7 linked regions of the Homo sapiens genome follow. The protein of the gene in region 1 purifies or fractionates together with the protein of each later gene. This does not show direct contact. Each region holds a gene or a part of one and is shown in the gene's direction. Other genes may lie near its edges. The genes, in order: SLC12A6, RAB6A, AMFR, SCAMP1, LGALS3, CLGN and UBAC2.

Region 1 (4,316 bases):
CTGATTGAACCCCATATCCAGATATAATAAACCAGGCTCTTTTTGTCCCTATATTGCTATAATACCTATATCACTATATTTTGTTTTTATTTACATATTATCTTTCTCAACTATGCTGTAGGGTTCTTGAGGACAAGGATACAAAATCATTTACACCTAGTGTAATATGTGATATCACATATAACTTGTACACCATAAATATACATTGAGTTGAAGATCTTGTAGACTTAAAAACAAGAGACAAATTAAAAACGTACTCTGATAAAGGCATATTAATGTATGTACGAGAGTAGTGCTACTTCATCTGGCTGCATAATGAATGATCTAGAGAGCTTTTCAAAAAATGCCTCTAGGCTGGGCGCGGTGGCTCACGCCTGTAATCTCAGCACTTTGGGAGGCCAAGGCGGGCGGATCACTTGAGGCCAGGCGTTCGAGACCAGCCTGGCCAACATGGTGAAACCCCGTCTCTACTAAAAATATGAAAACTTAGCCAGGTGTTGCGGTGCATGCTTATAATCTCAGCTACTCAGGTGGCTGAGGCATGAGAACCTGGGAGGCGGAAGTTGCACTGCAGCCTGGATGACAGAGCGAGACTCTGTCTCAAATAAATAAATACCTCTACCCTGACAAACAAAACCTAACAAAAAACAAAATTATCATTTTTAGTCACACACCAAAATAAGTGAATTATATTGTTTTGCTAATCATAGGTGACTATTACTTATTATTATTATTGTTATTATTATTTTTTGAGACAGAGTCTCACTCTGTCGCCCAGGCTGGAGTGCAATGGTGCGGTCTCCACTCATTGCAACCTCCGCCTCCTGGGTTCAAGTGATTCTTCTGCCTCAGCCTCCCCAGTAGCTGGGACTACAGGCACGTGCCACTACACCCAGCTAATTTTTGTATTTTTAGTGGAGATAGGGTTTCACTATGTTGGCCAGGATGGACTATTACCTTTCTCTTAAATAAGTCTTCTATATTATATAATTATTGAATACTATCCATGTTTTACCTCAGCATTCTAATAGCTAAAATATGTTGATTTGGTACCTTCTTAGCTTGTCTGAAAGAAGCATCCTCTTGATAGTTTTGTTTTTTTTGTTTTTGTTTTTGTTTTTTTTTTGAGACAGGGTCTCATTCTGTCAACCAGGCTGGATACAGTGGTGTGATCACGGCTCACTGCAGCCTCAACTTTCTGAGCTCAAGCAGTCCTCCACCTCAGCCTCTTGAGTAGATGGGAACACAGGTGCACACCACTATGACCAGCTAATTTTTTTTTTGTAGAGACAAGGTTTTACCATGTTGCCCAGGCTGGTCTCGAACTCCTGCATTCAAGCAGTTAGCCCACCTCAGCCTCCCAAAGTGCTAGGATTACAGGCGTGAGCCACCGCGCCCAGCTGGTTATATACCTTAACTGTTTTTCCTCTCTTCTCTATACTCTGTAGCCAGATTAAACTTTATAATATACTGCTTTATACCACAAGAAGCAATCAGCCAAATCCAGAATATGGGAAGTTTTATTGGATAACTAGATTCTTCAACAAATAATTGGGATGGGGTGGAGGAGGAGTGATGGGAAGAGAGGGAAAGCTGTTACAGATAAAAAGAGCCGTATCAGCCAAATGCAGTGTGTGAACTTGGTTTGGATTCTGATGTGCATAAAACAATTGAAAAAAGATACTTTTGAGACGAGTGGGGGAAATTTGAACATGTACATGATATTAATATTAAGGAATTGTTAATTTTCTTATAGATGTTTATGACATTGTGATAATGTAAAGCTGTTATCTATAAAGATATATATTGAAGTATTTACAGGTTAAATGAAATGTACTCCAGCTCCTTCCTCCCCACTCCTCCCCAAAAAAGTTGGGGAGAGATAGACAAAACAAGATTAGCAAATGTTTATAATTTGTTGAAGTAGAGTAAAAGGTACATTTTACTATTTCTTAGCTTTTATCTTTGAAGATGTCTGGGAACTCCTGAGCTCAAGTGATCCTCTCACTTGGGTCTCTCAAAGTGCTAGGATTGCAGGCATGAGCCACCATGCCTGGCCAATTTTTAAAAAGGTTAAATTACAATTAAAGGATTTTCTTTTGAGTGTGTCCTAGAATGCTGTAGATATTTGATTAAATATCAGTGATCAATACAGTGATTACCTCAACTTCTTGTCTTTGATCTTCGGTGGTCTCTTCTGTGTCCTCACTAAGTCTTTCCATCATGAGCCCAAATTCTTTTGTTCTCAGTGGCATGTTTCTAGATTCCAGATTCTCATAAATTTTGATATTACCTTTACTGGAATGGAAGGAAATGAAAGAAGGTACTCCTGCAAACCTGGGAACCTTATGAAAGTTATGCTTTCCCATTTTAAAGCTGTTAGAAGAAGGGGAATGTTTCTAATGCTGATGTTTAAGGCAACTTATAATGCTGTAAGCTTTTGAATTATGGCTGCTGCTTCTTTTGCCCTTCGTGTCTAACATATACTTCTGGACTACTAAGAACTTTGTGCAAATTCTAAAAAGGCACTCCTTTGTGCCCTGAGCCATCATGACTTCACTGGAGAAGGGCAAGCTGGATTTCAACCCTCTTCCCCTTGCCCTTCTGGCTTAATGCCCTCGTGCACTGTCTACACAGCTGTAGCTGGTGAGCTTGTTGTTTCAGAATAATGAAGTTACATGAGTTTAAGTTTTTGGTGATGTGTGTTTCTGAGGAGTAGGTATGAAAGTTTGGAGAGCTATAGTGTAGGAATTATGTGAGCATTTGAATGTTAAAACAATGTATTCTTTTAATGAAGTTTTATAAGTTTTACAAGTATGTGGAAAAACAAGAAGCTATTCTCTGTTAAAACCCTGTAATTAGTGCTTCAGTGTATATATGTTTTTATTTTTTGAGACAGGGTCTAGCTCTGTTACCCAGGCTGGACTTGGGTAGGCAGTGGCTATTCAGAGGCACAACTGTAGTACACTGCAGTCTTGAACTCCTGGGCTCAAGCCATCTTCCCACCTCAGCCTCCTGAGTAGCTGGGACTACAGGCATGCACCACCATGCCCAGCTAACTTTTGTATTGGCTTTTGGTAGAGATGGGGTTTTGCCATGTTGCTCAGGTTGGTCTCGAACTCCTGAGCTCAAGCGATCTGCCCATCTCGGCCTCCCAAAGTGCTAGGATTACAGGTGTGACCCACCGCACCTGGCCCTGGTATACTTTTAAGAATCTCAACAATTACATTTGAAGGTACAAGCACAAAACTGCAGAACATACAACATATACACATGCATACAGCACCTTGCCTTAATGGTAGTTCAGTACCTGATGAGTAGGAAACACTATCACCATATTTGCTCAGCTCTAAGGTGTGTACATTACCATATTTTAACATTTCTGATATTCAGGTGCGTCTTACTTTTGAAGAATTTTTAAGCTACTGTTAAAGTGGAATTTATACTTAACAAGATTTCAGAATCAAGTCAGTATTGTAAATAAGTCAGTCTGAGGGGCTTTGCGAAACCTGAAGTTTTGAAGTTACCTTTGGATGTCTTAACTGAAAAAAATGTAACGGCTGAAGTTTTTTTCTTCTTAAAATTTCAGTTTTTGTAGTTGAAAACTGTAGAAATAGAAAACAAAAGCCACATTGTTAGGAAATGACAGGTCTTCTAATTTTAGTCTTTTTTTTTTTCTTTTTAAAATTTCCTGTTATCTTAGCTCAGAGCTGGGTTTCAGTCTCCAGTTTTCTAGCTAATTTAACCAATGGCAGCTTTTTGTTTGTAGTTTTATTACGGCATTGCTAATCCTCATTATATTTGTCGTGGCCTTGAGCAAAAAACTCAATTGATGACATTCACCTGTTTATAGTCATAACCATTTGGTAAATAACTTTAATTTTTGGCAAAGTAGCACCTGAATTTCTCTCATTTTACCAGACAGGTCTACATTTACTTTGGGGTAAAGCTATTTATTTTTCATATTGCTAGTTTAAAAAAAGAGAGAAGAGAGAACACTAATAAGTTAAAAACTCTTATGTACACATCCACGTTTTCACTTTGAGGAGCTATGAGAAATTGAATCTAACCAAAATTTACTTTTATTCTATTTTGAGAGCATTTGCATTTACCATATCTAATTTTTTTTTTTTTTGAGACAGAGTCTTGCTCTATTGCCCAGGCTGTAGTGCAGTGATGCGGTCTCGGCTCACTGCAGCCTCCGCCTCACAGGTTCAAGCAGTTCTCCTCCCTCAGCCTCCTGAGTAGCTGGGATTACAGGCGCATGCCACCATGCCCGGTTGATTTTTGTATTTTTAGTAGAGACGGGGTTTTAC
Region 2 (4,316 bases), on another chromosome or scaffold:
CTCTTTTATGTTTTGATATATAGCATGTCATTTCTTAAAATTTGAAAGCGGCCAGGTGTGGTGGCTCACGCCTGTAATCCCAGCACTTTGGGAGGCCAGGATGGACAGATCACCTGAGGTCAGGAGTTGAAGACCAGCCTGGCCAACATGGCGAAACCCCATCTTTTCTAAAAATACAAAAATTAGCTGGGCGTGGTGGCGGGCGCCTGTAATCCCAGCTACTCGGGAGGCTGAGGCAGGAGAATCGTTTGAACCCGGGAGGCAGAGGTTGCAGTGAGCCGAGATCACACCACTGCACTTCAGCCTGAGCGACAAGAATGAGAGTCTGTCTAAAAAAAAAAAAAAAAATTTGAAAGCTTGGAAACGACTTTATCATGATGCAAGAACTTGATACTTGTTTTCAGGCTTTTCTTCCTGTAATATAGATATGGATAGTACGTAAAGACATTTTTATGTAGGGCTGCAAAAAGATCTTCCTCCTTTTTGTTACATTATACACACACACGCGTGCATGCGTGCGCGCACACACTCGCATGTTCTGGGGAAAATGTATGGGAGAAATACAAGCACGGTAGTTAAAAAACAGGTTTGAAAGTATTCTAGACCCAATAGGAAAGAGACACATTTTAGCTTGAGAGAAGCTTTCAAAGAAGCATTAATTCCTTTACTCTGATAGCTTAGGCTGCTCATTGACATTTACCTTAGGTTTTTTTGTTTTGTTTTGTTTTTTTCTCTATTTAACCATCAACAGTCTACTTTTTGCCACTTGAAAGGCATAGGGATTCAAACAGGTTTTAGGTAGGGAAAAAGGGAAGCCATATTTCTGATTCTGTGAAATTTTTCCCAGTGGCATTTTCCAGTCATTTATGTTTGGAGTATGCAAATTTTTAATATTTCTCCCTTTTGAAAAAGGAGTTTTGTGTTATTTTCATTCCTCACTCCCTGCAACCTCTTGCATGAGTCTTCTTTCTACTTCCTTCCCACCCTCTCCCTTTTACAAAAAACATTGTTTCTTTTTTCTTTTTAGTATTAGTTTGGTTTTTTTTTTTTTATTTATTTTTTCCCATCTCACAGATCAGGCTTCAGCTGTGGGATACTGCGGGTCAGGAACGTTTCCGTAGCCTCATTCCCAGTTACATCCGTGATTCTGCTGCAGCTGTAGTAGTTTACGATATCACAAGTAGGTATATTGCAACGGGTTGACCTTTCTTATTTTTCTTGCTTGTTTGACTGATTTTGTTGTTAGGTACGATTGCAATTATGGGACACAGCAGGTCAAGAGCGGTTCAGGAGCTTGATTCCTAGCTACATTCGTGACTCCACTGTGGCAGTTGTTGTTTATGATATCACAAGTGAGTGGAGGGAATTATGCATTTCTAATCTTCTTTCAACCTTTAGCTTAGCTGCATGCATGTTCTTGTCTTGTGCTTGTTTTCCTTACTGGCATGTAAAAATAAGTTTTATCATAGTAAATTACATACCAGCCAGGTCAGAAATATTTGCTTTGGTGTTTATACCAATATGCTTTATATGTAACTGTGCCAGGTTTTTTGCCCCAGAAATTTTCTTTTGGGTCCAACTATGAATCCTCTTCAAGGGTTTCTTAGTATCCTGTTATTCGTAAACCATACCATAATTATAGTTGGAGGAATGTTTCCTTGATCTCAGATTTCTCTAAAATAAAATGATCTGCATTTAAGTCTCTTGCCAGGTTTTCCAAATCCTCCAAGCTTTCTATTGAGGCTATTACAAGCTTCTGCTAGCCAGCTTTTCTCTGCTTTCCCCTTCCAGCCATTCTCTCTCTGTAGAGGAAGACAGAGAAAACATAATGTACAGTTTTCTATTAATCTTTTTTATTTGAATCATATTTTGGTTCTGTGACTGATTTATTTACTTTGTTGCTAACAAATTACACTTTCATTTCTCTCCAAGAAAAAAATTTTAAATAGGAGGTGAAACAACTAGTAGTCTTTTTCTTTTTTCTAAAGATTGAATAATGCCTGTGGCCTTTTAAGTGATTGTAAATTTTCCATGAAGCATTGGTGACTGACAAGAAAATGCTTTCTGATTGAAATTGCCTTTGTAAATTGGTTTATGACATATATTAGGCAATATTAAACATTATTACATGTAGTGGTTCATAACTTATAGGAAAACCAGGGTCTTGAACTCCTGGGTTCAAGTGATCCTCCTGCCTCAGCCTTCTAAAGTGCTAGGTTTAGGCCGGGCACAGTGGCTCACGCCGGAAATCCCCATATTTTGGGTGGCCAAGGCAGGCGGATCACCTGAGGTCAGGAGTTTGAGACCAGCCTGACCAACGTGATGAAACTCCATCTCTACTAAAAATGCAAAATTAGCCAGGTGTGGTGGTGCATGCCTGTAATCCCAGCTACTTGAGAGACTGAGGCAGGAAAACCTCTTGAACCTGGGAGGCGGAGGTTGCAGTGAGCCAAGACCGTGCCATTGCACTCCAGCCTGGGCAACAAGAACAAAACTCTGTCTCAACTACAACAACAACAACAAAAACTAAAGTGCTAGGGTTACAGGCATGAACCATTGTGCCCAGCCCAGTATCTGGGGCTTTCTTTTTAAATTTTTAAAAAATGTGTACCACACTACACAGATGTAGTATCTTGGGCTAAAAAAAATCTTAAATAGACAAAGGAACTATTCATTTGGACTAGTAATACTGTTACTATGCATTCTTGCATATCTCCTCAATTAGGAATTGTTATCTAATAACGAATAATTGTGCTGGCAAAATTAGAAGATTGCATTCAAGGACTTTTTTTGAGATAGGTGCTATATGCAGTCTTTCTTCCTTTGCACCTTTACTTTGGGTTGCTGTTTGTTTAAAAAAAAGAGGTATGTTCATATTGTGCATTGACACGTTTTGTAGCTTTAAAATGTTTGTGCTTACTTTAACCACAGCAAGTGAAACCTGGTGTATTTTTTTTTAAATCCACAAATGTGATTCAAATATTAGTACGTTGTTTTCTTTAGCTGCTGTAAGAAGTGTTGAAGTACTCTACTTAGAATCCAACACTAGAAAAGATAAATTTTGTTACAAGTGTTTCTGATGCATTAAACAAATAAACTTTAGGTTAAAGTGATCACAAACTGAGGAAGCAGTGCAAACAGTGGTGTTGAAAGCTATTGAAAGGCTTTACAGATTTTCTGGATGTGTTGGGACTTACTGGCTGACATACTTTGGAAAATGCTTTCTTTGTCATGTTTGGTATGTGTAAGTGATCAAAAAAGCATTGTGGCAATGTGACACCATATTATCTGCCATAGCTGTCCTTATATTTCAAAAAGTTGTTTTTTTTTCAATTAAATACTACATTGTACTCATTTGATCATGTTCAAAAAATTTTTAAACTACTCTAAAAGGAACCTTGAAGATTTTATTCTTGTAATTTGTTTAAATTGCTGACAGTTGTAATCAGATAAAATGGAGTTATGTTGCAGGCACATTAAAAGTGGGGTACTAATGTGCCAGCCCCCTTCCAACTTCCAGGGCTTTTTTGGAGGGAGGTGCCCACCACCTGGGGAGGCATTTTTCAGCAACACTAATCTCTCTGTCTACCCTCCTATACTAGATGTTAACTCATTCCAGCAAACTACAAAGTGGATTGATGATGTCAGAACAGAAAGAGGAAGTGATGTTATCATCATGCTAGTAGGAAATAAAACAGATCTTGCTGACAAGAGGTATGGAGTTATTTTATATGTGTGTAATGTTTGATTTCTGTGATGCAGCCTTTTATTTTTGTTCACTGAGAAATTGTTTTGAAAGGAGACATGCTTAATCCTTAAGTTTACGTCCTCCCCTGCTTTTCTTTAGCATGGGAACCTCAAATATAAATGTAAATATTAAACAGCCAGTCCTTAAGGGAAATGAATTTTATTTTGTTTAAGCCCATGTGTAAATAACTCTTGTGCAAGTTTGTTTAGACATGAAGCCAGTAAATATTTTGCTTTTTTTAGATCTCATAAGTATGAAAAGTGTTTTGTTAAAGAGCAAGCCATTTTGGAAAAACCTTATCTTTAAAAATTGTTCATAATGATTAAATGCACACTCTTTTCTTAGTAGTCTTCTTATAAAACATTCATTATAATTCAGTGGTGTGGATTTTTGTTTTTTGGTTGTTGGTTTTTAATTGTGTGGCTGAGCCAGACTGTGTAGTTGCACTGAATAGCTTGATTGTGATACCTTAGTCAAATGAGCAAAGCGATATTCAAGTCACAGGATGCAAAATATATTAACATTCACTGTAGGACCCATGGCTTGAATATTTGCTTTCAGCATTCTT
Region 3 (2,797 bases), on another chromosome or scaffold:
CACTGGGCCCCACTGGTCTACCTCTGATGCTGGTACTGTCAGTCATCTCCCATGGACCCCTTTGGCCACGCTTGCCGAGAGAGCACTTGTGTGCTAACCTGATCTAAGCCCTTTATATGAATTACTTTAACAGCTCTAAGAGGGAGCACTGTTAACCCATTCAGCTGACATACAGCTGAAGAAATGGAGGCTGGAGAGGTTAGCACTGGCCTGGCCCTGGCGTCTGTCTCCCAGGTCCTCCCTGTTGACCACTCTGCCTTTCAGCTGAGCATTGTACACACACTCAGCGCATCTGTGCGTCACACACCCATGGTTGGTGGCAGCTACAGCAGGTGTGTCCTGTGGATAGAGGGGGTTTTGTTCCAGCTCTTAAGGACAGGGCCAGCACTGTGTTCCTCAAGTGGGTTTGGGCCCTGGCAGACCCTGTGATTGTGGGAGTTCTGTGCTGTGTCTGTGGGTGGAGGGGATGGGCAGGAAGAGACAGCAGGGAACAGCACTGAAGGGTTCCTCCCTGGTGCAGAGAGAATTTGCGCCCATCTGTTGGGGGCTGGATGTCTTGGTCATTGGGTGGTGCTGAGTGACAGCTTCATGAAGGTGCCTGGACATGGGGAGATGTGAAATCAACCTTCTGGCTGTGTTCCACAGCTCCCCATCTCTCCTATGAGAGAGAAAAAGTCTTCTGTTTTTTCTAGACGTTTCTTGAACAAAAGTTCTGAAGATGATGCGGCCTCAGAGAGCTTCCTCCCCTCGGAAGGTGCGTCCTCTGACCCCGTGACCCTGCGTCGAAGGATGCTGGCTGCCGCCGCGGAACGGAGGCTTCAGAAGCAGCAGACCTCCTAGCGCTCCCTTGCCTTCCTCAGCTGCCTCCTGCGCCCTGTGCCCGACTGACTGGAGGAGGCCTGTCCCAATTCTGCCCGCTCCATGGAAAAGCGGGCTTGACTGCATTGCCGCTGTATAAAGCATGTGGTCTTATAGTGTTTGGACAGCTGATAAATTTAATCCTTCTTTGTAATACTTTCTATGTGACATTTCTCTTCCCCTTAGAAACACTGCAAATTTTAACTGTAGGTATGATCTCTTCTGGTGTTGACTGGACTGCTTGGGGTGGGGGACGATCAGGAGGAAGTGAGCAGTCGCCTGCCTGCAGCAGGCAGCTTCTACTCCTGCCTCATGCGTACGTCCCACAAATGCAGGTGTCCTGAGCACCACACCCAGTGGGAAGAGTGTGGGGGAGGCGCACAGTGTGAGCCCGCCCCCACGTCGTGGGGTAACATCTGTTATCAAACTGCTGTCGTTGTTGTGGAAGCATGTAGACTGTGCCAGAGGCCAGACCCACGGGCTCATGCACCCCTGAGCCAGCAGGGCATCTTGGAAAAGGAACTCTTGGTTCGATACCTGGAGCAGAGGAGGGGAAAGTCCAGGGCTATAGGGTGTGATGAAGTCACCCCTTTCTGTCCCACTACATCTGGGACTGACTTTCCGAGCCTCCAGTCCAAAGCCGGCTTGATTTCCGTGAACTCTGGTGCTCCTGCATCTCATGAGTGTGCCCCATGGGTCCCCTCCCCTCTCAGCATTTCCTTGTCCCGTCTGGACCTGGGGAGTGGTTAGGCAGCAAGCTTTGGTTTATGGTTTTCATTCATTGGTGAAGTAAATTAGGCAGTGCTAAAGCCTGTGGGTTTGGTCCTTGAACAAGATGTGGGCCTTGCAAGATGGGAGAGTAAACCTTGAAGGGCTTTATTAAAGAAATAAAAAAGAACTTTTGTATCTTTTATCCTGGGAGCACTGCGTTTTCCTAGCTGTGTTATTCCTGGTTTAATTCAGCAGAGAAGGTAAGGTGTGAACCTACCTGCCTTGGAGAGGGCCCAGGTCCCAAATCTCTTCAAATTCTTCACATGTTTAACTTTAAGGATTTGAACCATGAAGTCATAGGTTACAGACCTCAGTTTTATGCCCCATTGGATTACTTTTTTTTTTTTTTTTTTTTTTTTTTTTTTTACTCTTTGAAAGCTTTGTTTTGTGGTAGTCCTTTTGGGAAGAATCCAGTATTATCCACAATTATTGGCAAAGTTTAAATGTATTTTACATAACGGAAAGTTTTTAGAATGTTGAAAAGTAATTGAAAAAGGTGATAGGTAAATTTTTAGGCAAAGATAATTTATTTCAATAAATCTTTCAAAAGCCTTACCTTGAAATGCTGTTAGTAAATTTCTGTGATTTTTTTTTTTAATTTGTTTTGCTGAGAGCATAGCTATTTGTTTTTATTGTAAAACAATAATAATAATAAAAAGCAAACTCTATTGGTGTGTTGTGTGTGGCTGGAAGCTAAGGCATGTTTTTGTGTGGCTGGAAGCTAAGGCATCTTTTTCCAGAGGTGCCAACGTTAAACCCCATTTTGATTTGGATTTTGTGTATACTATTTTGGTTGGAGGGTTTTTTCCCATGTTTTTGAATTGGGAACTTTTGTTTTTCCTAGTAGTGTATTTGGGGAAGGCAGAACTACATTTTTCTTCCCCTTGTATTTATATCTTTTTTTTTTTCAGGTAAGTGTGTAGCGAAAGATTATTTTACTGTCCTCGAATTACATTATACTTCACACGTTGCACCCATTGTAGGTGCCACTAATTCCACATGTTCACAGGTTTCTGATGTGTGAAAAGAGAAAATTACTTGGATCAATTTTAGAGGGTCTTGACACATTACAAAACAGCCATATCACAGTGTTTAGAGCAGGAGCTTATTAAGTAGCTTAAAATGATGCAAGAAGTGAAGTTCTCAGTCCGCCCTTCCATTTTACACC
Region 4 (4,316 bases), on another chromosome or scaffold:
TCATATTGGCCATTATAATATCAATAACATTTGCTTTCAGAGCAAAATAAATCTTTATATGGTTACATTTCTGTTGCTTAATTTTTAACTCACTTTCAAGTCTGGATTTGCTGTCTTGTCACCCTTCAAATACTCATTCCTCTTTTTGTCAGCTTATACCATTTGCTTTATTCCATTATTAGGAATTATTGAATTTATGTATCATCTCAGTGGATAAATTTTTATTGCCTTTGGTCCCACTTTTTAATGCACACTACCATTAAGGTAAAAATGATGGAATAATAGATATTATTGGGAGAGCGTTGCAATGGTAAAATAACAGTGTTAGGAGGTAGAAGATGGCAAAAATCTGAGAAGAAAGGAGATTAATAAGATGCCTGATAGCATGTAAGGGCAAATTGAGTTATAAAGAATTTCTTAATCACATCTTTTGACCTCATTCTCCTATAACATTTAAGATATTAGAAAATATTCTTGCATTGGTGGCCTTATATATCATTTAATCTGATTAATAGGAGCCAATTCAGTTGCCCTTTTTTCTATTGTTCATTTTCCTCAACTGTTCCCATTGCCTCTGTTCTTCACTCATTTAGGCATAGAGGTCATCTTAATTTCATTTTCCAGATTACCTAAAGATTGTGACTACTTTTACTAAGAGAAGTTTTCCTCTCCTAATGGACCCAACATTCCCACTGAGAGTTTCTGGAACCCAAAGACCAAATGGACCAAATATCCTCATAATATTTTCTGTAACTATGATCTTCAGTAAATTCCTGTACTTTGGAAGTGTGTTTGAATTAGGTTTCTCTCATAGTAGAGAAGTAGGAGTTAGCATATAAATGTTAAAGTATTTTATACTTCTGACAGTCTATTCACATATTGATATTTTTTATTTAGGAACATGCATTGGCCCAAGCTGAACTTCTTAAGCGCCAGGAAGAACTAGAAAGAAAAGCCGCAGAATTAGATCGTCGGGAACGAGAAATGCAAAACCTCAGTCAACATGGTAGTATCCAAAGAAATTTGAAATAAAAATAACTTTTAAATACTTTACATTATGTCTATACTAGCTCCTAGGTCATTTGGCCTGTGGATAAAACCCTACCCTGTTTTCCTGTTCTAACAAGGAGATCAGACACAGCAGATTGCCTGTTTGATACTCTGTAGCCTTCTAATCTTGGCTGATTTGCATAGTCTTTTGTTGATAGCTTAGAACAGTGTTAGCCTCATCACACAGAAAATGAATGTGAATATGATAATTTTTGCTTACTCTGAGGCCAGGAGCCTTTGATTCTGCAGTTAGGCCCTCCTTGGTTCTGTGGACTCTTTATGAGTACATTTGCATGTACCCTACATTTGACTTTTACCTGATTTATTCAGGTTAATTTCAGATTATCTGCCCCAGTCCTCGCAAGTATTTTGTCAAATCATGTTAGAAAAATTGGAAGCCTAAGGTATTCATATGATGCCAAAGAAATAAGTGGTGAATTGTTGCAGTGAATTCTATTAAGTTTGTGCCTGCCAAAGCACTTCAAAGGAGTCTCTTAGGGAAAGCTAGCAGTCTCTGAGTAAGAAGAGATAAAAGAGCTAGATAAGTCATTGTTAGGATGTCTGGGATAGTGATGCAATGCAAAGCTAGAACAATAACAATATACAGAACTATTTCTTTTTAACTTAGAATGTGTAAGTCTAGGGCCTCATGAGAACACATTTATCCTGGGTCATTTTCTTGCTTGCAGCATCAGAGGTAGCATCTATAGAAGGAGAAACTAAAAGTTGAACTGGGACCAATGTTTCTGAAGTACCTGTAACTAAAATCCATCCTATTTCTTTAGCACTGGCAAATACAAACTATTTCTATGAGAGTTATGTTAGTAAAGACAGTAACAAAGAGTAGGAAATTAACAATTAGACTGCAGTATGTTAGCACATTTTAGTACTTTTCCCCTCTTAACTCATACTTAAATCATCAATACAATCCTGTGAGGGGTGATAGAGTTTTTATTCTCATTTTACAGATATGGAAACTAAGGCTCGGAGGAGAGAGTAAGTTGCCCAAGGCGACCTTGCCAGTAAGTGGCTAGCCACTTCTGGTTCCAGAGCCTCTCTTCTTTACGAGTATTCACTGCCGCTTCTCAAATAGTATGAGATTGGTATGAGAAATGAACTATATGAAATTTGAATAGTATGATAAATGGAACACAGGAGACTCATTGGGGAGAATCAGAAATAGGTTATTGTTCTTTCTATAAAAATTACCCTGGTCTGGGAAAAGTAGGTAAAATTGAATTTTTAAAAACTGTGGGATATAACATCTAAAATCGGGAAATGGCCTTAGGTGCTGTTTTTACCCGCTATTTTCATGTTTTGACTTCTTTATTTTAATTTTTTATTTCCCCCACCATTTCTCAAGTCTTATTTTTAATCTGGTTTCTTTATGTAGACACATTTTTTTCCCTTTACAGTTTGAATTTGTTTTTCTCTGCATTTTTAAAGGTTCTATAATTCTTCAGCTTCCTTATCATGACTGTTTCATGTTTTCTTTGTTGTAGGGTTTTCGTACATGTATCTTTTGGATATTATTTTTTCCCAGATTTTGAGTATTCTAAATTTGATTCTTTGGTATTGGTTTAATCTTGGACTTAACAGAAAACTTGAAAAAATTAGAAGCTAGTCTTTCTCCACTTGAGATAGGAATTATAACAGAATTATATTTGAAGATTTAAGATGCTGAGGAGAAAATTGAAGTTTAAAAACTGGATGGCCCTTTCATGCCAGCCAGACTCTTTGGACTGTGAAATAAATCTGTTTTAGGGTAGAAGCACTGGATATGTGCTTTCTTTTTGTTTCTTGTTTTTTCTGTACATAAATGGTTCCTGCTAAACATGGTATGATATGACACTGGAAAATTATTTTACTATCTAATGTGCTCTAAGGTGATGATATTCTGAGAAAATTTTTTAAAAATCTAAAGCTTGTCTTTCAGAGTTCTAGGAATACAAAGATATAGTTCTACAGTTTTTCTGAACTTTTGTTAACATAATAGAGTTTTTCTTTATTATGAAACAAAAAATAATATCACATTTGTTATAATATAAATAACCTTTTCTTTTTCTAAAAAAAATTTACAGGTAGAAAAAATAATTGGCCACCTCTTCCTAGCAATTTTCCTGTCGGACCTTGTTTCTATCAGGATTTTTCTGTAGACATTCCTGTAGAATTCCAAAAGACAGTAAAGCTTATGTACTACTTGTGGATGTGTGAGTATACAACAATTTACATCTTTGCTTAGAATTTGTATTTTTGTTGTCAAAATCCGCATTTTTATTTCAAGGATAGTATAGCAAACCAGTCTTCTTTTTCTATAGATAAAGCTTAATAATCATGATTTCAGAGTGAAACATATCCTATTTAGGTACTTCAGAATTGTACTATATGTGACAATGTAAGTCCTTGGCTGAGAAAAACTTGTATGTTGAGAACTGGCATTCTTTTGAGGAAAAGACAACTTCTCTGTCATGTGGGTAAAATTTTATAAGATTCTTTTTCCTTGAAAGATGTTATCTAGACATGATTTGCTTGGAAAAAATAGTGCATACTAATTTTATGCAGAGGAAGGCCATTTAAAAGAATTCTGTTAAATGTAGGCGTTTTAGCTATTTTTAAAAGGGCATAAAATTATTACATAAACTAAGTGTTCTTTTTATAGCTTTGAGTACAGTTTACTTTTTGTTTTCAATTGCGATACTTTTATTATTGAAAGTGCTTAATTAATACAGGACATTTTGTTGAACGGAACATTAGAATATACGTTTGGGGCTCTGATGCTTACATCACTTTGAGTATAATAACTCATGGAATACTGAAACAAAATGTCAAGCCGTTAACAGTTTTACTCTGTGTGCACAGACCTCCCACTTACTCTCTGTTTCATTTTTATTCCAAACAGTAGTCTCAGCCTCATTTTGATACCCTGTCAGAAGGGGAGGTAGCTATTGAGGGTTCTCACATGCACAACATCTGGGTTAATGGATAATTTGTAGGGTACATTCTTGATGGAGGAAATTTACTTGTTTTTACTTTATGATTAATGAGACTACCACCCTTCCCTTAATGGATGAGATAATTTTCCTTAAAATCTTTTAGGAGCATTCTTCATGTATGTCAAGTTGTTTTGGAATGTGAGAAGTGTTTCCTAATGGATAGTCTATTTTTAACTCTTCATTAGTATTTTTCGAGATATTCTTGATCTAATATCTTTTGCTGAATCCTCAGTGTCAGTAGTATATATTTTTAATATTAAATGTCTGATTCCA
Region 5 (4,316 bases), on another chromosome or scaffold:
CTTCTTCTGTGACGGTTGCGCACAGGTCAGGGACCTTTATGAGCAGACATTTCAGAAGTGTTCCTGGGAACCCAGACAACTGGACTGATTGCTGGGTGGGCCTAGAATAGCATAGTGCAGCGGATAGCTACTCTTTGTTAAAGGGAAAAGCTACCAATTAACAGCCGATTAAAATGGTCTGTATTCTAACTCATGTTTAAATTCCTTATTCTGAAGCTACACTGAACTGCTTACTGTAGGTGTTTACAAATGTGGAGACCCAGCTAGTATTTCTCTACTTTTAGTTTATTTTTTGAAGTTTTTTTTTTTTCCCCTCTGACTGTTCAAAATTCTCTGATCCTGGAAACACCAGGGTGGGGTTCACATATCTATAGTGTCTGTAGAGTGGGAAGATTTGTGACATTTGATTGTATGTCTCTCTCTGTAAACTACTCATCTGAAAAGAAAAAAGAAAAAAATTTCAGGCAAGTAAGGATGATACTTATCTGAATAGATGTCTTTTTTGTTTTCCTGAAAGTTTTGAGGTTAATAATCTTGATTTCAAAAGAGCATCAGTTATAATGCTTTTCTTTTCTTTTTCTTGAGATGGAGCCTCGCAGTCTCCCAGGCTGGAGTGCAGTGGTGCCATCTTGGCTCACTGCAACCTCTGCCTCCCGGGTTCAAGCGATTCTCCTGCCTCAGCCTCCTGAGTAGCTGGGATTACAGGCGCCCACCACCACACCTGGCTAATTCTTTGTATTTTTAGTAGAGATGGGGTTTCACTGTGTTGGCCAGGCTGGTCTCAAAACCCTAACCTCATGATCCTCCTGCCTTCGCCTCCCAAAGTGCTGGGATTACAGGCATGAGCCACTGCACTCGGCCTATAATGCTTTTCAAAAAAGAAATCTCATGGTTGGAAGTTGACGGGGCATACCCAATTTTTGGAAAAGTACACTTTATTGGTTAAAATGTCATTATAATTAGCAAATGACTATACAAAATGGCATTCTTGTATTCAATATTCAATATTATTTTGTGCTTGAATGAATCACCCAGTTAGTTTTCTGACCAAAACACAATCCTTTTTAAAAAATTTGTTTACAATTTCAGTATGTTATGTAGTTACAGATGAGTAAGTCAGAGAATTAATTTCACAATGAAGTAATTAACACTTTCAAAGGACTGTACTTTAAAATTTCAAAGTGTGATGTTTTCTATTGGTGTAGAATGAGCCTAAATAAGGAGTAAAAAGACACGAGCCCTACTCCTTGATCTGCCAATGACAGATGACTTTGGGCCACCATGTTATCTCTCTGAGCCTCAGTTTCCTTATGGTGAGAACACAGTAGTCTCCCCCTTATTTTCAGGGGATGCATTCCAAGACCCCCTGTGGATGCTTCAAACCATGGTTAGTATCAAACCCTATATATACTGTTTTTTTGATCTGATAACCAAGCCTGCTACTAAGTGACTTGTGGGTGGGTAGCATCTACAGTGTAGATAGGCTGGACATAGGGATGATTCATGTCCCAGGCTGGACAGTGAGATGGCAGGACAGTACAAGATTTCACCACAAAGAATGTCATTATAACTAAAATAGATAAGGTATGTGAACATGCTTCATAAGCTGAAAAGCGCCACACAAATGCCAGGTTTTGTTCTAGTGGCCTTGTCTAATGTGTCGAGACACAATCTATACTGCCCTCCGAGGTGGTGTTGAAACAGTGGAAATGCAACGAGATCTGCTTTGTTTCCCAAACTGGATTTGGTTAGATTGGAAAATAAACTAAACATGCTTGAGCAGAGGCTTTGAAAAGAATAAATATTAAATTATGGAAATGCCTTCTTTATTTGACTTTCTGGTTGGAATCAGCCTTTAAACACATCTTAATTTGAATAGAGTTATGTTAGGACCCTTTATAAGGCAAATTCAGCTAGTTTTAACAATTGAAACTACCTTTTTGGTTTTTATTGAACCACGTGTGTACATTCATGTAGGGATACACTGCTAACTAGCTAGATTGGCGGTCCTCAACTAGCCATGATTTTGCTCCCAGGGGATATTGGCAATGTCTGAAGACATTTTGTTTTCCTTTTTTTGGTAGAGACTGGGGTTTTGCTGTATTGCCCAGGCTGGTCTTGAACTCCTGGGCTCAAGCAATATTCCCGCCTCAGCCTCCCAAATGACTGGGATTACAGGTGTGAGCCACCACACCTGGCCTGAAGACACTTGGTTGTCACAAGTTGGAGTGTGGTATGCTGGAGTTCTGGCAGCATATGTATTGAAGCCAGCAATGCTGCTGAACATCCTGCAGTGCACAGGACAGCGCCCCACAGCAAAGCATCTGACCTGAAGTGTCAGTGGTGCTGAGGTTCACAATAAGCTCCTGTGCAATGAGGACATTTAAAAGAAATCAAAATGTTGATAACGTTATTGCTGGGTCTTTGATATGTTGCCTTAGGGTGGAAGAAGTATGTGTAATTAAAGGAACTAAGCTTTCTGCCCACCTTGAAGTTCAAGATTGTTTCGTATGGCATCCAAAATGAGGGAGACTTTCTTTTTCTGAATTAAAAATTTTCATTTATTTTCCTTTTCTGTAACAACTCTTCTCTCAAGGTCCCCCTGCAGTAGCAACTTATACGGTTTCTTATACGGTAGTGTGGCAGCCTTTTGGGGAAGGAGGCACATGCAGAGGAGCTCACAACTTTTGCTTTAAAAAGCCAAGCACTACAGGATGTAACGTAAATGAAAGATGCAGTAACCTCTGGAGTCACCGTGACTTCCCTGTCAAGCTGCCAGCAGTTCCCTAGGTTGGAAAATGGGCATGGTCATAACCTAACCACTTCTGAATAGGTTTCAGAATGACCATGTTCAAAAAGAGATGTGTGGCTGGATGCGGTGGCTCATGCCTGTAATCCCAGCACTTTGGGATGCTGAGGTGGGAGGATCACTTGAACCCAGGAGTTTGAGACCAGCCTGGGCAACATAGTGAGACCCCGTGTCTAAAAAAAAAAATAACTTAGCTGGGTGTGGTGTTGTGTGGCTGTAGTCCCAGTTCCTTGGGAGGCTGAGGTGGGAGGATCACATGAGCCTGGGAGGTGGAGGCTGCAGTGAGCCCTGATATCATGTCACTGCACTCCAGCCTGTGCAACAGAACAAGACCCTGTCTAAAAAAAAAAAAGATGTGCAAAAATATTTTAGTCAAAGGTAATGTCTGACTATGATATAAATAATAGCAGTATAGTAAAGGATGAGCATCCCCAATGCAGAAATCTGAAATGCTTCAAAATCCCAAACGTTTTGCATGCCTGCATGATGTTCAGAGGCCATGCTCTACAGAAATGCTCACTGGAGATTTTGGATTTTGGCTCTTCAGATTAGGGATGCTTAACTGGGCATAAGGACATATTCCAAAATAAAAAAAAATGTAAATCAGAAACACTTCTGGTCCTATTTCAAATAAGGGATACTCAACCTGTATAAAATATCCAGTGTGTATAAATGAAGCATATGTTAAGCCCTAGGAGGAGCTCTGCCTGTTTGAGTTTTACCAAAAATAAGGTAATATTTTATGGTTTTTTTTTTTTTTTTTTTTTTTTGAGATGAGGTCGCTCTGTCACCCAGGCTGGAGTGCAGTGGTGCCATCACAGCTCACTGCAGCCTTGACCTCCTAGGCTCAAATGATCCTCCCACCTCAGCCCCTCGAGTAGCTGGGAACACAGGCATGCGCCACCACACCCGGCTAATTTTTGTATTTTTCATAGAGACAGGGTTTTGCCATATTGCCCAGGCTAGTCTTGAACTCTTGGGCTCAAGCGATTTGCCCACCTTGGCCTCCCAGTGTGCTGGGATTACAGGCATGAGCCACCACACCCAGCCAATATCTTGCATTTGAATCAAGTAGTGGACATTTATTGGATCCCTTGGGGCCGATGCCATTTCTAAAAGTGATTGAGTAAATATCACAGGTGGGCAAATCAAAGAGAAGGATATTCTGGTTGTTTCAAGGTCCAGGTAATTCAGGCCATGGCACAGGTGATCCTGAGCTTAGGAAGAACTCACCCATGCCTCAGGGGCCCAGCTGCCCTCCTCCCCTCACTGCTGGAGCACCTACAACAGCTGTGAAGCATCTTGTGCTTTTGGAGCCTTGACATGGGAAGGAACAGGAGAAAGCAGGACTGATGTCTCCAGACCACCCCTTAGGCAAACCCTCTTTGGTAGCATCTTAGACCCAAATATTTTTTTCCTTCACGTCACGTTGCCTGAATTTTTTCACCTTAGTTTGTTGTACTGCCAAATATTTTATTTGGAATAACAAGTACCTTTGAAAAAAAAA
Region 6 (4,316 bases), on another chromosome or scaffold:
CAATATGATACTACGCCATATTAGGACCTATTACAATGACTACTATTTAAAAAAACATAATTTTGAACAAATGTTGGCAAGGATGTGTAGAAATTGGAACCCTTGTGCCTTGTTGGTGGGAAGGTAAAATGGTAAAGCCACTGTGGAAAACAGTATGAGGATTCAAAAAAAAATAGAATTATCATATGACCAAGCAATTCAACTTATGGGTATATACTCAAAAGAATTGAAAACAAGGTCTCGAAGAGTTATTTGTATACCCATATTCATTGTAGGATTATTCACAACAGCCAACAGGTGGAAGCAACCCAAGTGTCCACTGACAGATGAATGTATAAACAAAATGTGGTGTATACACACAATGGAATACTGTCCAGCTTTAAAAAGGAAGGAAATTTGATACATGCTACAACATGGATGAAGCTTCAGGGCATTATGCTAAGTAAAATAAGCCAGTTACAGAAAGACCAATACTGTATGATTCCACTTATATGCAGTACCTAGAGTAGTCAAAATCATAGAGATAGATATTAGAAAGATGGTTTCCAGGGGCTGGAGGGAAGGGTAGTGGGGAGTTGTTAAAAGTGTATAGCGTTTTAGTTTTAGAGCATGAAGAAAGTTTTGGAAATTAGTTGTACAACAATGAGAATGTTTTACCACGTGATTTAAAACAATTTTAAATGCATAAATTAACTACTTCATTTTCTTGTAGTATTACCCCAGCATCTGACCTCTCAGAGTTTCAGTACAGACTTGTCAATAGCATACCTCTCTCTAAGAAATGAGATGTCACAAACCTCATAGTTTTGTTTGGAACTTAATAACATGTTGGCACCATTGTGAGACAGATTTCAAGACTGTGAACTTCAGTATCTAATTCTCAATTGTCAGCTGGTGCAGCACTGAAGAATGATAGGATACTGCAGCATTACGCAGAAAGTATTAAGTCTGTATTTCTGATTTTTTTTTTTAAAAAAAAGAACAAATAAAAACAATAGAACTGCATTGTCTACAGAATGCCTTCTAACCAATTGCAGTTCTTTAAAACTCTCTGTTTTTGTTTTGTTGATTAGGAATAGTACCTACGCTATTCATGTCCTGGGCTGTAAAGATTAAATTAGCTAGTTCTTTGATGTAAATATAAGATCATAGAATTTTAAAGAAGAAACAAACTTTCAAGATAAAGTGTTTTCTGAACTGTTTTCTGAAGCATTGGCAACTATTTCTAAGGAAAAGTCAGGAAAAACTATAATATAGAATACAAATAAAACTGGGGTGCTCTGGTTGAGTTAAGGGTAGAGTTCCAGATAGAGCACTACCTGCTTGGCTTCCTCTTAACTCTTTCTTGGCAGCCCAGTACACCAGAGTTCAAACAAAGCACTTAGAATGTTTTTTTTTCAACAAATTAATTGTTTGGAACCTAAAGTGTACATTCATTTGAAAGAGAGGATATGGGTCTAAAGTTATATTAATGTTCATTATTAGTAGTATTATTTTATGTGTTTTTATTTTGCTCAAAAATGATTAATAGCCAGTCAAGCAAAGTGCCTTTTACTATGTAACATGGAAGGCCCTTAGGCTTTTAGAACAATGAAGCTTTTAGAGTTCACAATTAATAAGCAATTTGCAGATATACAAATTTCTGTGCCAATAACTAGGAAATTAAGGAAATAAGCCTATTTCATTGTGTCAAATTGATCCCTTTACATTTACTTCCTATCCCAGTTATACCTCTTTTGTGATTTAGAGAGATCAAATCCTAGTTAATGACAGCACCCATCATTTTTGTCTTTGTCCATAAATATATAAGTAATTATGTAATTGTGGAATTATAGGAATTATATATGCAAAAGAACTTTCTCCATAGCAGTCTACCTGATTACAATAAGCCCTATATTTGTTTGATCTTTTGAATGTGCTTTGATTTTAGTAAAACTCTACCACATTAAATTTGTGATAAAAAAATTTTTGTATCTTTTCTCAGCATTTATATATAAATGTATTTTGGTTTTATAATTATAAAATTTCCATTTTTATGTTTATATACACTTAAGCAACATTATAATAAAAACAATTTCAGTGAACATTTAGGAATCATGATACTTTTAAAGAGGTCTACATATTATTTGTGTTTGATAACTACTATCATCTTTATCTTTAGATTTTTTTTTTATTATACTTTAAGTTTTAGGGTACATGTGCACATTGTGCAGGTTAGTTACATATGTATACATGTGCCATACTGGTGCACTGCACCCACTAACTCGTTATCTAGCATTAGGTATAACTCCCAATGCTATCCCTCCCCCGTTCCCCCACCCCACAACAGTCCCCAGAGTGTGATATTCCCCTTCCTGTGTCCATGTGATCTCATTGTTCAATTCCCACCTATGAGTGAGAATATGCGGTGTTTGGTTTTTTGTTCTTGCAATAGTTTACTGAGAATGATGTTTTCCAATTTCATCCATGTCCCTACAAAGGACATGAACTCATCATTTTTTATGGCTGCATAGTATTCCATGGTGTATATGTGCCATATTTTCTTAATCCATTCTATCATTGTTGGACATTTGGGTTGGTTCCAAGTCTTTGCTATTGTGAATAATGCCGCAATAAACATACGTGTGCATGAGTCTTTATAGCAGCATGATTTAGAGTCCTTTGGGTATATACCCAGTAATGGGATGGCTGGGTCAAATGGTATTTCCAGTTCTAGATCCCTGAGGAATCGCCACACTGACTTCCACAATGGTTGAACTAGTTTACAGTCCCACCAACAGTGTAAAAGTGTTCCTATTTCTCCACATCCTCTCCAGCACCTGTTGTTTCCTGACTTTTTAATGATTGCCATTCTAACTGGTGTAAGATGGTATCTCATTGTGGTTTTGATTTGCATTTCTCTGATGGCCAGTGATGATGAGCATTTTTTCATGTGTTTTTTGGCTGCATAAATATCTTCTTTTGAGAAGTGTCTGTTCATGTCCTTCGCCCACTTTTTGATGGGGTTGTTTGTTTTTTTCTTGTAAATTTGTTTGAGTTCATTGTAGATTCTGGATATTAGCCCTTTGTCAGATGAGTAGGTTGTGAAAATTTTCTCCCATTTTGTAGGTTGCTTGTTCACTCTGATGGTAGTTTCTTTTGCTGTGCAGAAGCTCTTTAGTTTAATTAGATCCCATTTGTCAATTTTGGCTTTTGTTGCCATTGCTTTTGGTGTTTTAGACATGAAGTCCTTGCCCATGCCTATGTCCTGAATGGTAATGCCTAGGTTTTCTTCTAGGGTTTTTATGGTTTTAGGTCTAACGTTTAAGCCTTTAATCCATCTTGAATTAATTTTTGTGTAAGGTGTAAGGAAGGGATCCAGTTTCAGCTTTCTACATATGGCTAGCCAGTTTTCCCAGCACCATTTATTAAATAGGGAATCCTTTCCCCATTGCTTGTTTTTCTCAGGTTTGTCAAAGATCAGATAGTTGTAGATATGCGGCGTTATTTCTGAGGGCTCTGTTTTGTTCCATTGATCCATATCTCTGTTTTGGTACCAGTACCATGCTGTTTTGGTTACTGTAGCCTTGTAGTATAGTTTGAAGTCAGGTAGTGTGATGCCTCCAGCTTTATTCTTTTGGCTTAGGATTGACTTGGCGATGCGGGCTCTTTTTTGGTTCCATATGAACTTTAAAGTAGTTTTTTCCAATTCTGTGAAGAAAGGCATTGGTAGCTTGATGGGGATGGCATTGAATCTGTAAATTACCTTGGGCAGTATGGCCATTTTCACGATATTGATTCTTCCTACCCATGAGCATGGAATGTTCTTCCATTTGTTTGTGTCCTCTTTTATTTCATTGAGGAGTGGTTTGTAGTTCTCCTTGAAGAGGTCCTTCACATCCCTTGTAAGTTGGATTCCTAGGTATTTTATTCTCTTTGAAGCAATTGTGAATGGGAGTTCACTCATGATTTGGCTCTCTGTTTGTCTGTTGCTGGTGTATAAGAATGCTTGTGATTTTTGTACATTGATTTTGTATCCTGAGACTTTGCTGAAGTTGCTTATCAGCTTAAGGAGATTTTGGGCTGAGACAATGGGGTTTTCTAGATATACAATCATGTCGTCTGCAAACAGGGACAATTTGACTTCCTCTTTTCCTAATTGAATACCATTTATTTCCTTCTCCTGCCTAATTGCCCTGGCCAGAACTTCCAACACTATGTTGAATAGGAGTGGTGAGAGAGGGCATCCCTGTCTTGTGCCAGTTTTCAAAGGGAATGCTTCCAGTTTTTGCCCATTCAGTATGATATTGGCTGTGGGTTTGTCATAGATAGCTCTT
Region 7 (4,316 bases), on another chromosome or scaffold:
GAGACATGGCAGTTGTTTTCTGCTGGTGTCTCTGTGATGGCCATCTGCCAACAAAGGTAACCGCAGAGTCAGTACAGTGTGAAAGTGTTTCAATAATCAGATCTTTTACGGCTTTTTAAAAAATGAAGACAGTGTCTTGACAATCTTTTACCAGAACTTTGAATACTAAATGATTAGAATTTTGCTAGCTCTTCTAATTCAATAAAAAACAATTTTGTTTTACTAAGTTCAATTTTGTGTTGATTTGCACTGCTTAGTGTTCTGCAGTGTGGTAGAGGATTTTGCTTATTGCCTAACACTGCTATGACTAAGAAAAATACCGTGTGCAGTGTCTGGAGGCTGCTGATTTTTGAGTCGTGTACATTTTTTAAAATAATACTACATTTAAACAATCACATTGGACGTTTTTCTTCTAGATGTCCGGTCTGTGCTACGACAGCAAAATGTTCCAGGTGCATCAGGTGCTCTGCATCCCCAGCTGGATGGCAAAATTCTTTTCTTGGACACTTGAACCCATCTTCTCTTCTTCAGAACCCACCAGCGAAGCCAGAATTGGGATGGGAGCCACGCTGGACATCCAGAGACAGCAGAGAATGGAGCTGCTGGACCGGCAGCTGATGTTCTCTCAGTTTGCACAAGGGAGGCGACAGAGACAGCAGCAGGTAAAAGTGATAATAATCACTAAAAATTTAGAAATTCTCAGTGGCCCAAGCAAATCTTTCCTCTGTGATTGCATGTGAGATAGAGACTACATTTTATTCCAGTGCCTTGCAAGTGGATTTTGACATTTCCAAAGAGATTGTAGGTCTCTGTTAGTGGCCATTCTTAGTTTTTTAAAAAGGTAAAAAATAAATTGCAGCTGAAAGATTGGTCAAACTGGACATTCTTGTTCCACCTATATTAGATAAGCATGACTTCTTAGAGAAACACCAACCTAGTTAACAAGATGTGCTATTTATCTGTTTTTATAATCTTGTAAAAGCCACAGTGTCTTCCTGTTAAAATGCTAATCATATGCTATGGAGTGAAGAACAAATGTAAAATTTCTTGATTTTCCTTGGTTGAAATGAAGAGAATATGAAGGCAAGAAGATTTTCAGTGGAACAACCAAGGAGTAGATAAAAAAAAATGCTGTGTTTTCTCAACCTTGCTATCAATAATCAGAAATTATTGCACATTTGTCTACAAATTCTGCATCCAAACAATCTGATACTACATTTGTCTTCCATGGGCAGTGAGAGAAGGAGGGTTAGTGCACATCAGGCTAAAACCTCAGGCCTGATCTTTCTTGGACACTTCTGTGAGCCAGCCCACAGGGCTCCCCATTTTTCGCCTCCACCTTCTTTACCCCTGGGGTAGTTGTAAACCGTACAGTTACCTCTGCCATCTCTCTGTCTTCCACTAGCATTGGATGCAAGAAGTAGGTCTGCAGATCTCACGATGGTTTGGAGAAGTGAAATCAGGTTTGAGGTCCTTAGAGTCCCATTGGAGATGCAGGTCCCAGAGTTTATATCAGGGGGGGGGAGGAAGGGGGCAGCTTATTAGGGGCAGAGTCTACAAGAGAAATAGAGAAGCAAAAGTTGTTTCTTAAAGATGTGCTTGAATTTGAGTGACTCTGGAACATGCCATAAAGATGCCCATGGTGTATTTAAAGCTGGAGGATGGACATCTCTGTCTTGGAAATGTGGAAGCTACATATATATATAGGTGATGGAGTCACCTCTGTAGGGATGAGAGCTGAGAGCCGAAAGCAAAGAAGTAGTAAGTTCTGTAAGAGAAGAGCTACATCCAAGATGAACACAGGCTACAGATGAAGCCTCGTATTTAGCAGGAGGTAAATCCTTCAAGGAAACTGAGAGAAGAGCGAAAGGTATGAGAAATCAGAATGATCAAGGTCAGAAAAACTGAGTAGTGATTGAGTATAAAGGTAGAGGCACAGAGCTTATGAGGGAGAGAAAGAAGTAGGGGATGGTTCTGATGTTTCTGGCCTAGATAATCTTAGATAGATGACTGATAGTTCCATTTCACCAATATCAAAAGAGCAGATTTGGGGGAAATATGTTGTCTGAGATACCTTTGGAATCCTGGGAGGAGATTCTCCATTGGAGAGCTTTGAATTTGTCCTCATAAGCAAACCAGAGAAGTTGCATTTCTCAGATTGGCCTCCCCAGGAAGATTTTTATACAAAGAGTTTATGAGAGAACACCGTCAGCATCAGTATCTATGGGGGCGGGCTGGCGAAGGCAGCAAGATGGGACAGAGGGAGCAGCTGCAGTTCCAGCAAAAGCCTCGCTGGTCTTATGGAGCACAGTGAAGCTGGGAGAGCCCTTCTGAGTTGTCCCAAAATGGGGACCAGTCCTGTTGGGTAAGTCCCATGCGTACGACCTCTTTGAACCTTAATTACCTCCTTAAAGTTCCTACCTTTAAATACAGTCACATCGTAGGGTTAGGGCTTCAGCGTGTGAATTTGGGGCAGGGGCAAGGGGTGGGAGACAGTGTGTTCCATAACACTGCAGAGTGGAAAGGGCCCAGCATAGTCTCGGCGCTGAGTGACTGTTCTGCTTGCAGACGGTAGTTATCAGGCACACACAGTCTCTGTGGATGCCAGGTTGGATGCTCCATAGTGGCAGGAGATAGGTCGGCCTAGGTGAGGGGGACCCACACATTCCTCTGTGCTACCACCATGGCCATCCATTCGTGTGCCAGCGCTGGGTTATCTGGTGATGGAGCCACAGTCATTCTGTCCACCTTCCATTTGGTGCCTTTTCTGTGGTGGATGCCCGTGGTGGGCACGACCTGCAAGACACTTGATGCTGTTCCTTTAGCTGGATCCTCCTTGTTCCCTCCCTTCCAGTCCCCTGACCGACCAACCAGGTGATCTGCCATGCCCAGCAGATCCACACGTGTAATTGCCTCAGGCCACTTCTCTTCACACAGAGTTGATGACCAAATGTGCTGCCCAGGCTCTGCCCATAGGGGGTTCCCCTGATCGCTGTCTTTCAAGATTGAGCCATCATGCAGCCGTTTCTTTCAGCTGCCACTCATGTCCTGAGCCAGCCTGTCCATTTGGCTGTTTTCCCCTCTGTCACTTGGTCATGAGGGGCCCACCAGCTGTGGTAGTCGGTGTTAGCTGGGAAGAGGCTGTGGTGCAGCAGAGGTGGCTGCCAGGGTGGTCTGGCATGCCTGCTTCTGCAGCTCACCCATGCCCTGCAGCCCCACCTATGCTGAGCCCAGATGCCCGTGTCCATCTGATGATGGGTTTCTGTCGGCCCACCTGGCTTGGTAACTTGGTGGGTCTCCACTGCTGACCACATGCTCACTTTGTGGCCTACAGACAGGCACTTCATGGTGCAGCAGCAGTTTATGCAAGTGGGATTCTTGGCTGTTTGCGCACGCCCTCGCTCCAGGATTCTACGGACCCCCATTGTGGTTCTCCTTTCCTGCCTTGCTGTAAACTCCGCACGGTGTCTTTCCCCCCAGATACTTGGAACATCACGGGATCTGCCAGGTTGTACCCAGGCCTCAGGGAATGAGACAGACCCAAACCCCTGCCCTGCTGGAGCGTGCATTCCCACCAGGCGCCTGTGAAGTGGCACAGGCCTTTATGGCTGTCTACACTGCTGTCAGACTCCTCCACTTTCATAGGATGGTCTCACTAACAGATCTGAAGTCCAGAGCAGGACACCAGCCCCTGGGCTCTTGCTGGGCTTTTACGTTGAGTGGTCTGCTGGGCAGCACAGACCAGACTCTTGATTTTTTCCTAAGCTTCCTAAGTTCTCTTCTAGGGTCCGCACATGGGTACACCCAAACCTGAGCACTTAGCCTCCTGCTGAACTTCTTCACTCAGCTGTGTCTCAGTTTTCTTCACATAAGTATGATAAATCACCACGTAGAGAACTCTTTTGTTAAACCACCACTGGAAATTATCTGCCGTATTTGTGTGCATGCACGAGTACCGTACAGGGTGCAGTTGTATTGGAATGTAATACCAGGAGAAAAGTTTATTTTCATTTACTTTTCAACAAATAAGTACTTAGTGCTTATTATATGGTAGGCCTAGAGCTGGACATTGAGGACACAGGTGTAAAAAAGATAGCCCCCAGTCCTTTTTCTTATGGAGCTTAGGTCCTGTCTCTCTTGCAGAATTAGCATGTTTCACTCTTTATCAGTAAGAAGACCACCACCATTTATTTTGCCAGTCCTATAGTAAGTACTCAGTATATGTTATCTCATTTATGCCCGGTGTACGCCTAGAGAGATGCAGGTATTCCCTCATGACCCCGGAGGCTCAGGGGAGTGCTTGCTTGTCCAGGGGC

Evidence for each region.
Region 2: the proteins of SLC12A6 (region 1) and RAB6A purify together in Homo sapiens (affinity purification with mass spectrometry; 2 studies listed by BioGRID and IntAct, with this or other methods). This does not show direct contact.
Region 3: the proteins of SLC12A6 (region 1) and AMFR purify together in Homo sapiens (affinity purification with mass spectrometry, with the first as the bait; one large-scale study listed by BioGRID). This does not show direct contact.
Region 4: the proteins of SLC12A6 (region 1) and SCAMP1 purify together in Homo sapiens (affinity purification with mass spectrometry; 2 studies listed by BioGRID and IntAct, with this or other methods). This does not show direct contact.
Region 5: the proteins of SLC12A6 (region 1) and LGALS3 purify together in Homo sapiens (affinity purification with mass spectrometry; 5 studies listed by BioGRID and IntAct, with this or other methods). This does not show direct contact.
Region 6: the proteins of SLC12A6 (region 1) and CLGN purify together in Homo sapiens (affinity purification with mass spectrometry; 3 studies listed by BioGRID and IntAct, with this or other methods). This does not show direct contact.
Region 7: the proteins of SLC12A6 (region 1) and UBAC2 purify together in Homo sapiens (affinity purification with mass spectrometry, with the first as the bait; one large-scale study listed by BioGRID). This does not show direct contact.

What each region holds. Positions count from the first base shown.
Region 1 is NC_000015.10:34,327,477-34,331,792, reverse strand, and holds part of SLC12A6 (solute carrier family 12 member 6), read left to right. Parts: intron 1-4,316.
Region 2 is NC_000011.10:73,715,649-73,719,964, reverse strand, and holds part of RAB6A (ras-related protein Rab-6A), read left to right. Parts: intron 1-1,074; coding exon of another isoform or gene 1,075-1,180; intron 1,181-1,246; coding exon 1,247-1,352; intron 1,353-3,602; coding exon 3,603-3,714; intron 3,715-4,316. UniProt on the Homo sapiens protein: The small GTPases Rab are key regulators of intracellular membrane trafficking, from the formation of transport vesicles to their fusion with membranes.
Region 3 is NC_000016.10:56,360,952-56,363,748, reverse strand, and holds the end of AMFR (E3 ubiquitin-protein ligase AMFR), read left to right. Parts: intron 1-692; coding exon 693-840; 3' UTR 841-2,297; downstream 2,298-2,797. UniProt on the Homo sapiens protein: E3 ubiquitin-protein ligase that mediates the polyubiquitination of lysine and cysteine residues on target proteins, such as CD3D, CYP3A4, CFTR, INSIG1, SOAT2/ACAT2 and APOB for proteasomal degradation.
Region 4 is NC_000005.10:78,415,644-78,419,959, forward strand, and holds part of SCAMP1 (secretory carrier-associated membrane protein 1), read left to right. Parts: intron 1-897; coding exon 898-1,006; intron 1,007-3,131; coding exon 3,132-3,260; intron 3,261-4,316. UniProt on the Homo sapiens protein: Functions in post-Golgi recycling pathways. Acts as a recycling carrier to the cell surface.
Region 5 is NC_000014.9:55,132,006-55,136,321, forward strand, and holds part of LGALS3 (galectin-3), read left to right. Parts: intron 1-1,346; exon of another isoform or gene 1,347-1,349; coding exon of another isoform or gene 1,350-1,387; intron 1,388-4,316. UniProt on the Homo sapiens protein: Galactose-specific lectin which binds IgE. May mediate with the alpha-3, beta-1 integrin the stimulation by CSPG4 of endothelial cells migration.
Region 6 is NC_000004.12:140,417,210-140,421,525, reverse strand, and holds part of CLGN (calmegin precursor), read left to right. Parts: intron 1-4,316. UniProt on the Homo sapiens protein: Functions during spermatogenesis as a chaperone for a range of client proteins that are important for sperm adhesion onto the egg zona pellucida and for subsequent penetration of the zona pellucida.
Region 7 is NC_000013.11:99,339,904-99,344,219, forward strand, and holds part of UBAC2 (ubiquitin-associated domain-containing protein 2 isoform 1 precursor), read left to right. Parts: intron 1-416; coding exon 417-662; intron 663-4,316. UniProt on the Homo sapiens protein: Restricts trafficking of FAF2 from the endoplasmic reticulum to lipid droplets.